Linked DNA regions of Homo sapiens. The protein of the gene in region 1 interacts with the protein of each later gene in a pairwise test. Each region holds a gene or a part of one and is shown in the gene's direction. Other genes may lie near its edges.

The links. The genes of interacting proteins can lie anywhere in the genome.
Region 2: the proteins of PPP2R3B (region 1) and DUSP12 interact in binary tests that used the Homo sapiens proteins (3 or more experiments, as listed by UniProt).

The regions. Positions count from the first base shown.
Region 1 is NC_000023.11:383,908-392,902, reverse strand, and holds the start of PPP2R3B (serine/threonine-protein phosphatase 2A regulatory subunit B'' subunit beta), read left to right. Parts: upstream 1-5,995; 5' UTR 5,996-6,211; coding exon 6,212-6,535; intron 6,536-7,797; exon of another isoform or gene 7,798-7,861; intron 7,862-8,995. UniProt on the Homo sapiens protein: The B regulatory subunit might modulate substrate selectivity and catalytic activity, and might also direct the localization of the catalytic enzyme to a particular subcellular compartment.
Region 2 is NC_000001.11:161,752,344-161,758,534, forward strand, and holds the end of DUSP12 (dual specificity protein phosphatase 12), read left to right. Parts: intron 1-24; coding exon 25-121; intron 122-731; coding exon 732-918; intron 919-4,442; coding exon 4,443-4,604; 3' UTR 4,605-4,895; downstream 4,896-6,191. UniProt on the Homo sapiens protein: Dual specificity phosphatase; can dephosphorylate both phosphotyrosine and phosphoserine or phosphothreonine residues. Can dephosphorylate glucokinase (in vitro).

The DNA.
Region 1 (8,995 bases):
CTCAAAAAAAAAAAAATAGAGAGAAAAGAAAATGCCATCTGCGTGCTCTTTGCAAACATTTCCCCATCTGCGTGCTCTTTGCAAACATTTCCTCCCGAAAGTCTCCCGGAATGATAAAAGCAACCACACAGCCTGGCCACCTAGAATCTGGGTCCGCTTGTTCCAGGCTCAGAATCTTTTTCCTCTCAGCCAGTCTCATCTTCCGGGCTGTCAACAGCGTGTGCAGGGCCGCAGGATTTATAGGTAATGACATGCTTCTAATTCTCCATTACCTCCAAAGATTTCATCTTCCCCTTTTCTAAATCCTTCTTAGGAGATACTTGTCAGGTTCATCTGGCCCAGCAGCTTCTGACAAGGGGACCCCGCTCATCCCCGTCATCTCTGTGACTTCATGTAAATAGCGGCACGTGGCGGCCGCCTTTGGCCCTCGGCCCCGAATCCATTGCGGAGTCTCACTTCCATTAATTCTTAATTTGTGACCACGCTTCCTTTTCTGTTCTGTGTTTAAATGGAGATGTGATTAGTAAGGTAATAGGAGAAAGCCGGGGTCCTCACGATGCAACGTGCATTTCTGCGCCTTATAGAAAATTGGATAGGCGTCATTATTTCTTCCAGTAGCAGAGTGCATTCTGACATCTGATTGCTTGAACTGTGATATTTCCATACGCCATCCATCACCCCGGCCACGGCGGCACGCTGAATATTCAGATTAAATTGGAACTTTTTCCCTATGAATAAGGGATTTCATTCTATCCTATAAGATACACTGTCTCCGGGGAGAGGAAATTGAGTTGAAGGTTGCTGAAAATCGTATTATCCAAATACAGAGTTCTTTTCCTTATCATCAAAACCTGAAACACAGCCGTGGGGAACCGAGAGGTCAGGAGAGAATTCAATTAGAGAGGAAAATGGAAAAGGGAGCATTTTTCCACTTACGTTTTATTTTGCCAAGCAGGTGGCAGCGGGCGCCGCTCGGGACAAAAGGGGCGATGTGTGAAGGGTTTTTGGTTTCTGGAAGATGGATGAGGACACAGCCTCAAGGAGTTATGAAGAGGCAGGAAAACCTCTACAGCAAATGTTCCATCCTCTCCTTTGCCGGTTTTGGACGAGGTATCTGTGAGAGTTCCTGGCCTCTTACTGCCACAGTTACGGTGGTTTCTTTTTTTGGGAGGGAGTCTCGCTCTGTCACCCAGGCTGGAGTACAGCAGCGCGATCTCGGCTCACTGCAACCTCCGCCTCCACCGGGTTCAAGCGATTCTCCTGCCTCAGCCTCCCCAGTAGCTGGGATGACAGGTGCACGCCACCACATCTGGCTAATTTTTGGATTTTTAGTACAGATGGGGCTTCACCATATTGGCCAGGCTGGTCTCGAACTCCTGACCTTGTGATCCGCCCACCTCGGCCTCCCAAAGTGCTGGGATTATAGGAGTGAGCCACCACTCCCGGCCCACGGTTAGAGTCTAAACTGTGCACGCTGCCTGGAGTCCCCACCTCTCCTCACCTGAAATATGCACTCGGAAATGTGTTTCCAAAACCTGCAGAATGCAGACCCACACTACTTTCCTATTTATTTATTCATTTTGAGACAGAGTCTCGCTCTGTCGCCAGGCTGGAGTACAGGGGCATGATCTCTGTTCACTGCAAGCTCCGCCTCCCGGGTTCAAGTGATTCTCCTGCCTCAGCCTCCCGAGTTGCTAGGGTTACAGGTGCCCGCCACCACGCCCAGCTAATATTTGTATTTTTAGTAGAGACGGGGTTTCACCACGTTGGCCAGGCTGGTTTCGATCTCTTGACCTCGTGATCCACCCCTGTCGGCCTCCCAAAGTGCTGGGATGACACTGTGCTCGGCTGGGTTTTTTGTTTTTTTTTGTTTGTTTGTTTTGTTTGTTTGTTTTAAGTCATCGTGCGGAATGCAAGCGGCAGATATAAACTTGATCCCTCTTTGACCTCTCACTGCACGCACCTAGCTGGGAGCTTTGGGTCGGCGCAGGACCAGGGAGATCCTACTTGCCAGGTGCTTCCTCTGAGGCATCTCCAGGTCTGGAGCTTTAGTGTTCGATCAACCACCCAGGTCTGCGGGGCGAAGGCCGACTGAGATCCAGAGCATGTCATACAGTGGGTGAGTTTGCATTTCTGAGCAGCTGCAGGTGGGGCAGAGGCTGCAGAGGCTGTGGCCACACAGGAGACCCGGGCTCAGGTGGATGAAGGAAGGAGCTTCTCTCCCTCTACAACCGTTGTGGCTCCCTCCTTCCTCACCTCCCTGGGAAGCGCTGACCCAGCTCTTTGTTCCTGGACCTACATCCCACAGAGGAGCAGAGTCTTCCGGAATCTTCCTCGCTACTCTTCCCTCCCCATTCTCGCTTTTTATTTTATTTTTATTTTTATTTTTTCGAGAGGGAGTCTCGCTCTGCTGTCCAGGCTGGAGTGCAATGCTGTGATCTCGGCTCACTGCAACGTCTGTCTCCTGGGTTCAAGTGATTCTTCTGCCTCAGTCTCCCAAGTAGCTGGGATTACAGGCACCCGCCATCATGCCCAGCTAATTTTTCTATTTTTGTAAAGACGGGGTTTCACCATGTTGGCCAGGCTGGTCTCGAACTCCTGACCTCAGGTGATCTGCCTGCCTCAGCTTCCCAAAGTGCTGGGATGACAGGTGTGAGCCACCACGTCTGGCTAATTTTTGTATTTTTGTAGAGACGGGGTTTCAGCATGTTGGTCAGGCTGGTCTCGAACTCCTGACCTCAGGTGATCCTCCCACCTCAGCTTCCCAAAGTGCTGGGATAACAGGTGTGAGCCACGATATCTGGCTGCTTTTTAAAATTTAATGCTTTTAGGGACAGAGTCTTTCATTCCTGCCTCGGCTGGAGAGCGGTGGTGAGATCTCGGCTCACTGAAGCCTCAACCTCCCAGGCTCAAACGATCCTCCTACCTCAGCCTCCCGAGTAGCTGGGACCACAGGCACACGCCAGGATGCTCAGCTAATTTTTAAATATTCTCTAGAGATGGGGCTCGCCATGTTGCCAAGGCTGGTCTTGACCTCCTGGGCTTAAACAATCCTCCTGCCTCGGCCTCCCAAAGTGCTGGGATGACAGGTGTGAGCCACCATGCCTGGCTAATTTTTGTATTTTTGTAGAGACGGGGTTTCACCATGTTGGCCAGGCTGGTCTCGAACTCCTGACCTCAGGTGATCCACCACCTCGGCCTCCCAAAGTGCTGGGATGACAGGTGTGAGCCACCGTGCCTGGCTAATTTTTGTATTTTTGTAGAGACGGGGGTTTCACCATGTTGGCCAGGCTGGTCTTGAACCCCTGACCTCAGGTGATCCACCGTCTCGGCCTCCCAAAGTGCTGGGATGACAGGCATGAGCCACTGCAATCTCCCGGCCTGCCCTCACCTTTCTCTCCCCAGGACAATTCTGGTGGCCACCCACCACCCCTGCAAGACGGACAGACCCGAATGGGCAGGGCGTCCATCCGGCTGTGGAGCAGCTTGGATAATTGCAGCTGGCCACATCCCAGCAAACTCTGCAACACCTCAGGCCCTGCCAGCCTTGGGGGCCCGACAGCACCTCTTTGTTCTCCCAGAGCAAAGCCTGCACGGAGTGGGCCCCCGGGCCCCAGCGCAGACTGAAGGCGCATTCTGTTTCTGCCCTGAGTTGATTTCTGTCCTGTTGGCCCTGGGCCTCACTACACTGTGCCCCAGTAACCTGGCAGAGAAAGGCCTCTTGTGCAGGCATTCAAAGGAAACCCTTTCCCCTCAAAACTGCAGTGATGCTTCCAACAGTGACTCGCAGCTCATCGAAACACCCAGAATGAAAAGCACGTTTGTTCCTTGAAAAGACGTCTGTGTCCGATACATACTCAAACAGAGAACTGTATTAATATATTCACTTCCCTCCAGAAATCACAGCATCGCACACACACACAAACGGTTGCTTCCCAATTAGGAAAAATAACTTCACAGAATTCCTGCGTGATGGCGCTCTTCTGACCAAGTACACTCGGATTTTTATATCCAATCACGAAACACAAACTGAAATTCAAATCATTATGTACACAACACAAAACTATCGTTTATGAGTGATTTAAATCGGGTGCGGTGGCTCACGCCTGTAATCCCAACGCTTTGGGAGGCAGAGACAGAGGCAAAGGCAGGAAGATTGCTTGAGGCCAGGAGTGTGAGACCAGCAACACCTCGTCTCTATAAACAATAAAATTAAAAATGAGCCAGGCATGGTGGCGCATGCCTGTTGTCCCAGCTGCTTGGAAGGCTGAGGTGGGAGGATCGCTTGAGCCAGGAGATCAAGGCTGCACTCAGCTAAGATCGCAGCCTGGGTGACGGAGCAAAACCCTGTCTCATACGAACAAAAAGAGTTATTTAGGCCGGGCGTGGTAGCTCACGCCTGTAATCCCAGCACTTTGGGAGGCCGAGGCGGGTGGATCACTTGAGGTCAGGAGTTCGAGACCATCCTGGCTAATACGGTGAAACCCTGTCTCTACCAAAAATACAAAAATTAGCCAGGCGTGGTGGCGGGCGCCTGTAATCCCAGCTACTCGGGAGGCTGAGGCAGGAGGATCCCTTGAACCCGGGAGGCGGAGGTTACAGTGAGCTGAGATCTTGCCATCGCACTCCAGCCTGGGCGACAGAGCGAGACTCCAACTCAAAAAAAAAATAAAACTAAAAAAAGAGTTATTTTTTTTTTTTTTGAGACAAAGTCTGGCTCTGTCGCCCAGGCTGGAGTGCAATGGTGTGATCTCAGCTCACTGCAACCTCCACCTCCTGGGTTCAAGCAATTCTCCCGCCACAGCCTCCCGAGTAGCTGGGACTACAGGCACACGCTACTATGCCCGGCTAATTTTTCTATTTTTAGTAGAGATGGTGGGGGCGGTTTCACTATGCTGGCCAGGCTGGTCTCGAACTCCTGACTTCGTGATCTGCCCGCTTCAGCCTCCCAAAGTGCCGGGATTACAGACTTGAGCCACCGCGCCCGGCCAAGGGTTACTTATTGAGTCTGGCTCGATTTATGCAGCTCAGAAGTAGGAGAACCTGGCTCATAAAAGACCTTGAAATTACTCTCTAACAGGGTGCAACACCAGGTGAAACCCTATTTTGATAAAAAATGAATAAAAAGCGGGGCAAGATGTAAAGGAAACAGGTGCATGTGTGCCAGACAGATGATAATGCAGTGTTTTTATGGATACTGTTAAAAGCAGAAACAAAAACGACCATTGGGTAAAGTTATTTAACTAATGTCACCTCCCTGGACGTGGATGATTTTTGCAATTTTCAACGCACTTCACGCTCATCCCTGAACACCAACGTTTAAAGGGGTCCAACTCCTCCAACCTGTCTCTACTGTTTGATAAGCAAAGCTAAAGTAAACGGGGCCCTTTGGGTCCCAGGTAGCCCGCTGTTATTGAAAAGTTTGATCTTTTCCTCGCGCGCTCCCGTAGGACGCACGCTCGCTCCCGAGCTCGGCGGGCGCGCACCCCGCATGCTCGCTCGTTCCCGGTGCCTCCCACTGCGCAGGCGCACTCCCGTCCTCCAGCCCCACCCGCTCACACACCTCCCAGCCTCTGGCTTGCGCCCCGCGGGCAGCCATTGCGCACGCTCACCCGACCGGCCTCCCGAACTCCGCTCCTCCACCGCTATGCACGGCGCATGCTCCATGCGGAGGTTCCACCCTCTCCTCGCTCTGGCAGGCACGCATTGCGCATGCTCGCATTTCCGCAGCTCTAGGACTGCCACGCCGCCATGGGCCGCGCCTCTAAAAATCCTAAACGCAGAAAGAGCTCGGGCGGTACGGCCGCCACAGCCCCTCCCTCGTCCTCACCGCAGCCGCTCGGCCCCACCAAAGCCTCCTGCAAAAGCTCCGAGGGCCGCGGGGCGCGCGTGGCTAGCGGCGGCGTCGCCTCGTGATGACATCGTCGCGATGACGCGACGCAGTGACGTGAACGCGGGCGCCCTTGTTTGGGAGCGCGGCCGGCGCGCCCGTTTTGAAGCTGCCCTGAGCAGCGCGGGCCGGACCGCGCCCCCTCCTCGGTCCCCGCGCCCCGCGAGTCCGCGCAGTTCCCGAGGCGCGGGCCCTGTTCCCTGCGCCGCGCCCCCTCAGCGGGCCGTGCTCGCATCACCGAGGTCGGTCCGGGGCGGACCGAAGCCCCCGGGGCGGGGCGGGGCGCGGGCGTCCGGGGGCGCCGCGGGCCCAGCCCCCGCCATGCCGCCCGGCAAAGTGCTGCAGCCGGTCCTGAAGATGAAGGTGGACGAGCTGTTCCTGTACTGGCTCAGCGAGGCCAGCACGCAGCGGATGCTGCAGGACTGCCTGCGCCGGATCAAGGCGCCCGGGCGGGACCAGCCGACCCCGGGGGACGGGGAGCAGCCCGGGGCCTGGCCCACAGCCCCGCTCGCCGCCCCCCGGCCCAGCGGGCTCGAACCCCCGGGAACCCCCGGGCCGGGCCCTGCGCTGCCCCTGGGCGCCGCCTCCAGCCCCAGGAACGCGCCCCACGTTCGAGGCACCCGTAGATCCGCAGGGACGAGAGTAGTAAGTTACTCTTCCTTCTGCTAACAACTGCGCAGGTGGCTCTGGTCGCATAGTGGGCGTGTGGCTGCGCGATGGAGGCTGGTGGGCGAGCGTCAGACCCCAAAACGGTTTCATATTGAGTCTGTTCCCCGCCCCGACCCCCCCCACCACACACATACAGACAAGAAAGTCCCACGTACTGAACATTCCGTCATTGACAGTTGTTAACCTAAAAATCACACAATTTATAAAGGTAGAAAGGCTTCCTATTTTATTTTATTTTATTATTTTAATTTGTTTTAATTTTGAGACAGAGTTTTGCTCTGTTGCCCAGGCTGGAGTACGATGGCGCGATCTTGGCTCACTGCAACCTCTGCCTCCCAGGTTCAAGCGATTCTCCTGCCTCAGGCTCCCGAGGAGCTGGGACTTACAGGCACGTGCCACCACGCCTGGCTGATGTTGTATTTTTAGTAGAGACTGGGTTTCCCCCATGTGGGCCAGGCTGGTCTCGAACTCCTGACCTCAAGTGATCCTCCCGCCTTGGCCTCCCAAAGTGCTGGGATTTCAGACGTGAGTCACTGCGCCTGGTCCGTTTTTTATTTATTTTACAATTCTTTGGAGACAGGGTCTTGCTCTGTCTCCTAGGCTGGAGTGCAGTGGCGCAAACACAGTTGGACTTCCTGCCTCAGCCTCCCCAGTAGCTGGGATTACAGGCGTGCACCATCACGCCAGGCTAATTTTTGTTTATTTATTTATTTATTTATTTTTGCAGAGACGAGGTCTTGCTATGTTACCTAGAGTGCTCTGGAATTCCTGGGTCCAAGCAATCCTCCCGCTTCGGCCTCCCAAAATCCCACTGTATTTCTTAGAAGAAACGCCATTTATTTCATAGAAGGTGATTATACACCGCAGGTGAGAAGCGCAGCCTCTGGCTAATGTACCTGTAATCTCAGCTACCCGGGAGGCTGAGGCAGGAGAATCACTGGAACCCAGGAGGCAGAGGCTGCACTCCAGCCTGGGCACCAGAGCAAGACTCCATCTCAAAAAAAAAAAAAAAAAAAAAAAAAAGAAAACTAAAAACAAGCACTTGGAGGGAAGAAAAGATGAGACGGGAATTTATGCTGAGTGGGTTGGCCAAGTGTATATATTCAAGAAGTTATAGGAAGAGCTATGGATATTCACCAAGGGTGTCCTGACGCATGGGTATTGAACAAACATGCATGTTACCTACTCCCGAGTTCACCTTGGAGCGGAGACTTAACATTTAAATGCATTATGGTTAGGCCCCCTAGGTCAAAAGGTGAAGCAACTCTGCAGCCTCTGTCAACCGGCCAGAACCAGTCCGTGGTGAGTAGTTACCAGGATAAAGTGATTGCAATCAGTTTTTTTTTTTTTTTTTTTTTTTTGAGACAGATTCTCACTCTCACCCAGGCTGAGATGCAATGGTGCAATCTCAGCTCACTGCAACCTCCGCCTCCCGGGTTCAAGCGATTCTCCTCCCTCAGCCTCCCGAGTAGCTGTGATTACAGGCGCACACCACCACCCCCGGCTAATTTTTGTATTTTTAGTAGAGGCAGGCTTTCACCTTGTTGGCTAGACTGGTCTCAAACTCCTGACCTCAGGTGATCCACCCGCCTCAGCCTCTCAAAGTGCTGGGATGACAGGCGTGAGCCACCACACCTGGCCTGGAATCAGTCTTTTCCCAGTCAAAGCTGTAGTTACGGCTGGTGGAACAGAGGGGTCTGTTCATCAGGATCTGACAGGAAGCTGCAGGTGTTTTAATATTGTTTATATTGGTCAGGCATGGTGACTCACGCCTGTGATTCCAGCATTTGGGAGTTGGAGGCAGGCAGATCACTTGAGTTCAGGAGTTCGAGACCAGCCTGGGCAACATGGCGAAACCCCATCTCTGCTAAAAATACACAAATTAGCCAGGCGTGGTGGCGCACCTGAAGTCTCAGCTACTCAGGAGGCTGAGGCAGGAGAAATGCTTGAAGCTGGGAGTCGGAGATTACTGTGAGCTGAGATTGCACCACTGCTCACCAGCCTGAGCAACAGAGGAAGGCCCTGTCTCAAAAAAAAAAAAAAAGTATATATATATATATAGAGAGAGAGAGAGAGAGAGAGTCTTCTTGCGTGCGCGAGCTTGAGGCCAAGATAAGCAATAGAGAAAAAGAAAAACATCCTTTATTTACTTCTTGAATCTCAAAAACGAGTTTCTGCAGAGGTCTCTAGTGAATAACCTAAAAGGACATTTAGCTGCTGGAGAAAAAGAAATGCTTTGGCAGTTGGAACTGTAGTTTATTCTTTAAGTGTAGGCGGTGTGTGACTTAACCCTCACCTCAGGTGGCCCTTGGTCTTGTTTGCCACAGAGTCTGTTCTGTCAGTCTTACGATGTTGATTTTAACCTTTTTGCTGGTTGGTTGTGTTTAAACTGCCAAAGCAGGAGGGGTATAATAAGGTGTGTCCAAACTCCCATCC
Region 2 (6,191 bases), on another chromosome or scaffold:
ATACATTTTAATTATGTCATATAGAATTGCAGAATTTACCTCAAGAACTCTTTGCTGTTGACCCAACTACCGTTTCACAAGGATTGAAAGATGAGGTTCTCTACAAGTGTAGAAAGTGCAGGTAAACTATTTTATATCCTTTGGATATTTTATCTTGTCTCAGTAGCTGAAAAGTACTTAATGTTTTATTTTCTTAAATTTCTGTAGGAAGATTTTGTTTAATTGAAATTTTTAGTTCAGATCTGTTTTCAGAAAGAATATAAATTCTTAAAAAGAGAAATAATCAGATTGTAAGGGTTATTGAAAATTTAAGTAGTGTAATCAATGTTACATTATTTTGTTCTCTAAGCAATATTGCACATTTTGCTGGGCGCAGTGGCTCACGCCTGTAACCCCAGCACTTTGGGAGGCCGAGGCAGGCAGATCACCTGAGATTGGGAATTTGAGACCAGCCTGGCCAACATGGTGAAACCCCGTCTCTATTAAAAATACAAAAATTAGTTGGGCATGGTGGCTGGTGCCTGTAATCCCAGCTACTCAGGAGGCTGAGGCAGGAGAATTGGTTGAACCCAGGAGGCGGAGGTTGCAGTGAGCCATGATCACGCCACTGCACTCTAGCATGGGCGACAGAGTGAGACTCTGTCTCAAAAAAAAAAGAAATACCGCACATTTCATCCATGTTTTCATCCTTTTGGAAGTCATTAATGCTTTTGTTTGTTTGGGGGTTGCAGGCGATCATTATTTCGAAGTTCTAGTATTCTGGATCACCGTGAAGGAAGTGGACCTATAGCCTTTGCCCACAAGAGAATGACACCATCTTCCATGCTTACCACAGGGAGGCAAGCTCAATGTACATCTTATTTCATTGAACCTGTACAGTGGATGGAATCTGCTTTGTTGGGAGTGATGGATGGACAGGTGAGAACACATTTTATTTTCTACAATTTTATTTTATGATCTATATTTTATTCCTTCTTGCATTTTAAGCTCTATTTTAACTAGTGTTTTGCTCCATTTCTTAATTTCTTTATTTCTGAAGATTATATCTTTCTAGTGTAGATAAGACTATCAAAAATAAAATATTTTTCAAAAACCAGCTGATCCAACATAGTGAACTACTTCTGGTTGAGAGCCCTGGTCTAAGTTAATAAATTTCCTTTAAGGCTATTTATATTTTTTTCAAATATAAGACTAACATTTATTTTTAAACTAATTAGAATATATTGGCTGGGCACTCTTGCCTCATTAGCTCATGCCTGTAATCTGAGCACTTTGGGAGGCTGAGGCGGGAGGATCACTTGAGCCCAGGGTTTCGAGACCAGCTTGGGCAATATAGTGAGACCTCATCTCTATAAAAGAAAGTAAAAAATTTTTAATAAGAAAAAAAGAAAAGAAAAAATGTATTAAACAAAATTTGAACTTTGTAACAAGATAGGGTAAATCAGGGATTTTAAAATTAGGTTAAAAATTCTGTCTTTCTTTTTCTCTGTTGGCTTCCTGTATGTGTCTTTCTCTTTTTTCTTATCTTTTAGGAGAGTGAAATTTAGTTTGTTTTGCTATGAGATTCTTTTTCATTTCCAGTTAAATAATGCAGCTCATCCTATTGCTCCTGTAACCAGTGGGTAGGGAAATAAAAAAAGAATGCAGTTCATGTGACATTTTACATAAAAAAGTGTTTAACTTGGTTGGAGTGTGCCATGACAGCCACATTTCTCCTTTAGGTTTACTTGATATTAATGTGAAGGTATTCTATAATAATCATCTTAATAATGATTTTGAAAGTTTGTATGGTTTGTATAAAAGTTTGTATAGTGGCTAGTTTATGAAACCCTTTCACTGTATTATACCATTTGAAGAATGCCATAGCTTTATAAAATAGGTAGAGCAGTTATATTCACGTGTTGTGCATGAGGAAACTGTTTATGAGTAGTGTCTTGCCTAGAAAGTGGTACCATATAATCAAACTCACATTTTCGGATAATGCTGCTTTTTTTAAAAAAAACAGCCTTATTATAGTATAATTCACATAACATGCAATTTACCTATTTAAGGTGTATAGTTCAGTGGCTTTTAAAGTGTATTCACAGTGGTTTTTGCAACCATCGTGTATTAGTCTATTTTCACACTGCCATAAAGATAGTACGTGAGACTGGGTAATTTATAAAGGAAGGAGGTTTAATTGACTCATGGTTCTGCATGGTTGGGGAGGCCTCAGGAAACTTATTATCATGGCAGAAGGGAAAGCAGGCCACTTCTTCACAAGGCGGCAGGAGAGAGAAGCATATGTGAAGGAGGAACTGTCAAACACTTATAAAACCATCAGATCTTATGAGTGCTCATTCACTATCACGAGAACAGCATGGGGGTATCTGCCTCCATGATCCAATCACCTCTCTTCTTCCACACTTGGGGATTACAATTTGAGATGAGATTTGGATGGGGACACAGAACCAAACCGTATCACATCACAATTCACATTCCCACTCTTCCCATTCTTTTTTTTTGAGACGGAGTTTCACTCTTGTTGCCCAGGCTGGAGTACAATGGCACAATCTTGGCTCACCACAACCTCTGCCTCCCGGGTTCAAGTGATTCTCCTGCTTCAGCCTCCTGAGTAGCTGGGATTACAGGGATGCGCCACCACGCCTGGCTAATTTTGTATTTTTAGTAGAGACGGGGTTTTTCCATGTTGGTCAGGCTGGTCTCGAACTCCTGACCTCAGGTAATCCACCTGCCTCAGCCTCCCAAAGTGCTGGGATTACAGGCGTGAGCCACCATGCCCAGCTGCAATTCCCATTCTTGATGGTATTATTTGTAGCAGTTAGAGATTTTAATTTTGATGGTATCTAATTTATCAGTTTTTCTTTTTTGTGGCTTGTGATTCTGGCTTTCTAATTTTACTTAACCTGGGAAACACACACACACACTCCAGCCAAGTTAAATACATTTTTATGTAAGATTCTAAATCCTGTGCATACTTATTTGTATACATATTTGATTTTTTTCTGTAGAATATGTACCTAGAAGTGGAATTCCTGGCTCGAAGAATGTATTTTAAATATTAGTGATATTCCAGGCTGATATTCAAAATGCCCATACAAATTTGGTTTTCAGTAACTGAATGCATGTACCCGTTACTCCATATCCTTGACATAATAGATACTATAAAACTGGTAACATTTTGTCAGTCTGTGGGGTAAAAAATGTTAATCCTAAAATGTTTAATTGGAATTTTATGAAAATAGTCATCAACCACCATCTTTATATATTTACCAGCCATTTACTGTTTTCTTTTCTATAAATTGCTTTCATATTCCTAGGCCCATTTGCCTATGGGTTTTGTCTCTTTCTTACTCATTTGTAGGACCTCTATATATTCTAGATGTTAATAGTTCATCTAATATATTGCAACTATTTTCTTCAGTCTATTGCTTATCAGATTTTTTATGTTTTGTCATATTAAAATGAAGGATATTTACATAATAAAATTTGTTAGTTTTTTTATTTATGGCTTCTGAATTTCTTTTTTTTGAGACGGAGTCTTGCTCTGTTGCCCAGGCTGGAGTGCAGTGGTGTGATCTTGGCTCACTGCAACCTCCGCCTTCTGGGTTCAAATATTCTCCTGCTTCAGCCTCCCAGGTAGCTGTGATTACAGGCATCCGCCACCATGCCCAACTAATTTTTGTGTTTTTAGTAGAGACGGGGTTTCACCATGTTGACCAGGCTGGTCTCAAACTCCTGACCTCAGGTGATCTGCCCGCCTTGGCCTCCCAAAGTGCTGGGAATTACAGGTATGAGCCACCACACTCAGCCTGCTTCTGAGTTTTATGTCTAGTTTTCTATAGCTCAAGATTAAAAATAAAAACTCTTACCTTATACCATGCATAAATCAAAGAGCTAAACATAAAAATTAATGCTATAACTAACTACATTAGAAGAAAATGCAGTTGCCTTATTAGGCTTTTTTGATTTACCTATTTTCCTGGAATATCAGTTTGTCTTTAAATAGCTAAGAATCTGACTTATATGCTGTCAATACACACAGTTAGTAATACAGCATGAAAATCCTAACATGCTTTTCTATACTTTAGCCGTGATCATTTTCATTTGAAGTCCTAAATTACAAACTGATTTAAAAGCTATATATATATATATATATATATATATATATATATATGCCACATCCATGAAACCTTCCTTAATCAAATCTCAAGCTTCACTTTTCTCCCTTCAAGCTCCCTGAATACAACATTCTTCCTATGAGATAATTGTAGTCTACTATCTATTACAGTAAATTTCCAATGCATTTTATCTCACTGATTAGATTATAAACTCAACGTGGGGATCGTGTCTTGTTTTTATATCCTATATTGATTGCCAAAGATAATGATTTGTTTTGTATAAAAGTGAATGAATAAAGTAACACATTTGCTTTATTTCAGCTTCTTTGCCCAAAATGCAGTGCCAAGTTGGGTTCCTTCAACTGGTATGGTGAACAGTGCTCTTGTGGTAGGTGGATAACACCTGCTTTTCAAATACATAAGAATAGAGTGGATGAAATGAAAATATTGCCTGTTTTGGGATCACAAACAGGAAAAATATGAACATGATATTTTATAGCTTGGGAAGAAACTTGCAGATGATATGTGCTGCCTTTGCTTCTTATCATTCATGGCAGATTGTTTGTGCTTTCAACATTTCATTTGAAATGGGAGAAGATAAAATCACTTGATGTAACCTGGAAACTATGCTTTACATGGCAATCAAAGCCTTTTGATCATGTACATTTTATTTGATATTAAAATCTTTTATAACCAGATACTGTCTGTGTTTCATATATTTTTAAAAGTTTTGATTGTTGGAATGTTATATGATCTTAAGGTCTGTATAGACAAAATTATGTACAAAAATTTGAAACTATTATATTTAAATGGGTATTCTTTTATTTCCAGACACATAAAGCAGATTTGTTTGGACATATTTTGGAATTATTTCACTTTCTTTCTTTTAAGGGACATTAGTAAACCCATACATGTCTGGATTTTTTTCTTGGAAATGGAAAGGCCATTAGTAAAACGCTGATTAAAAGGCAATTTTCCTATTACTGTTCAGTAATCCCAATTATCTATATTTTTAGAAAAGTGTTTGAGATCCCTTTTGAAGTGATCTACATAAAGAAATACATAAATGTTAGATGTGTTTCTAATGATGAAGAAAACAAATGTAGAGTTACTATATATCAAGTCATTTTGTAGCCCAATATGTGAGTATTGGAAAAGGTAATACGTCCAGATTAGTTTTTTAACCTGATGTATAGAAACTAGAATTATTTTACTCATTATTAATAATTACAATTGGACCTAATTAGATATTTGAACATTTACAAGAATCAGAATTAACTAATAAAGGCCAGGTGCAGTGGCTTATGCCTATGATCCCAGCACTTTGGGAGGCCAAGGCAGGCAGATCATTTAAGGTCAGGAGTTCAAGACCAGCCTGGCCAACATGGTGAAACCCTGTCTCTACTAAAAATAAAAAAATCAGCCAGGCATGGTGGCACACGCCTGTAGTCCCAGCTGCTTGGGAGGCTACTCCAAAAAAGAACAAGAATTAATAAAGAAAAATATTCTTTATTTTTGTTGTAAATTAAGTTGTAAATTCACTAGTCATGCTCCCCACCATTTGCAGGGTTCCAACAATAGTACACATTGAGGCTTATATACATAAACACCGTAGTGGGAGTAATTTTTAAATGCAAAAATATGTTGTGAATAATGATCCTCTTAATAAATGCCTAGCTCAGTTTTTTAAAGGTATAGGAGTGTTATGGAAAATTCTTGAGAAAAATCTTAACATTGGACCTGAAGGCTTTGGCAGTTTCCATGTAATAATTTTTCTTTCTATTTTTTTTTTTTTTTTTTGAGATGGAGTTTTGTTGTTGCCCAGGCTGGAGTGCAATGGCATGATCTCGGTTCACTGCAACCTCCACTGCCCAGGTTCAAGCGATTCTCCTGCCTCAGCCTCCCAAGTAGCCACCACATCTCGCTAATTTTGCATTTTTAGTAGAGATGGGGTTTCCATATGTTGGCCAGGCTGGTCTCAAACTCCTGACCTCAAGTGATCCACCCACTTCGGCCTCCCAAAGTGCTGGGACTACAGGCGTGAGCCACCGCTCTCTGCCATAATTTTTT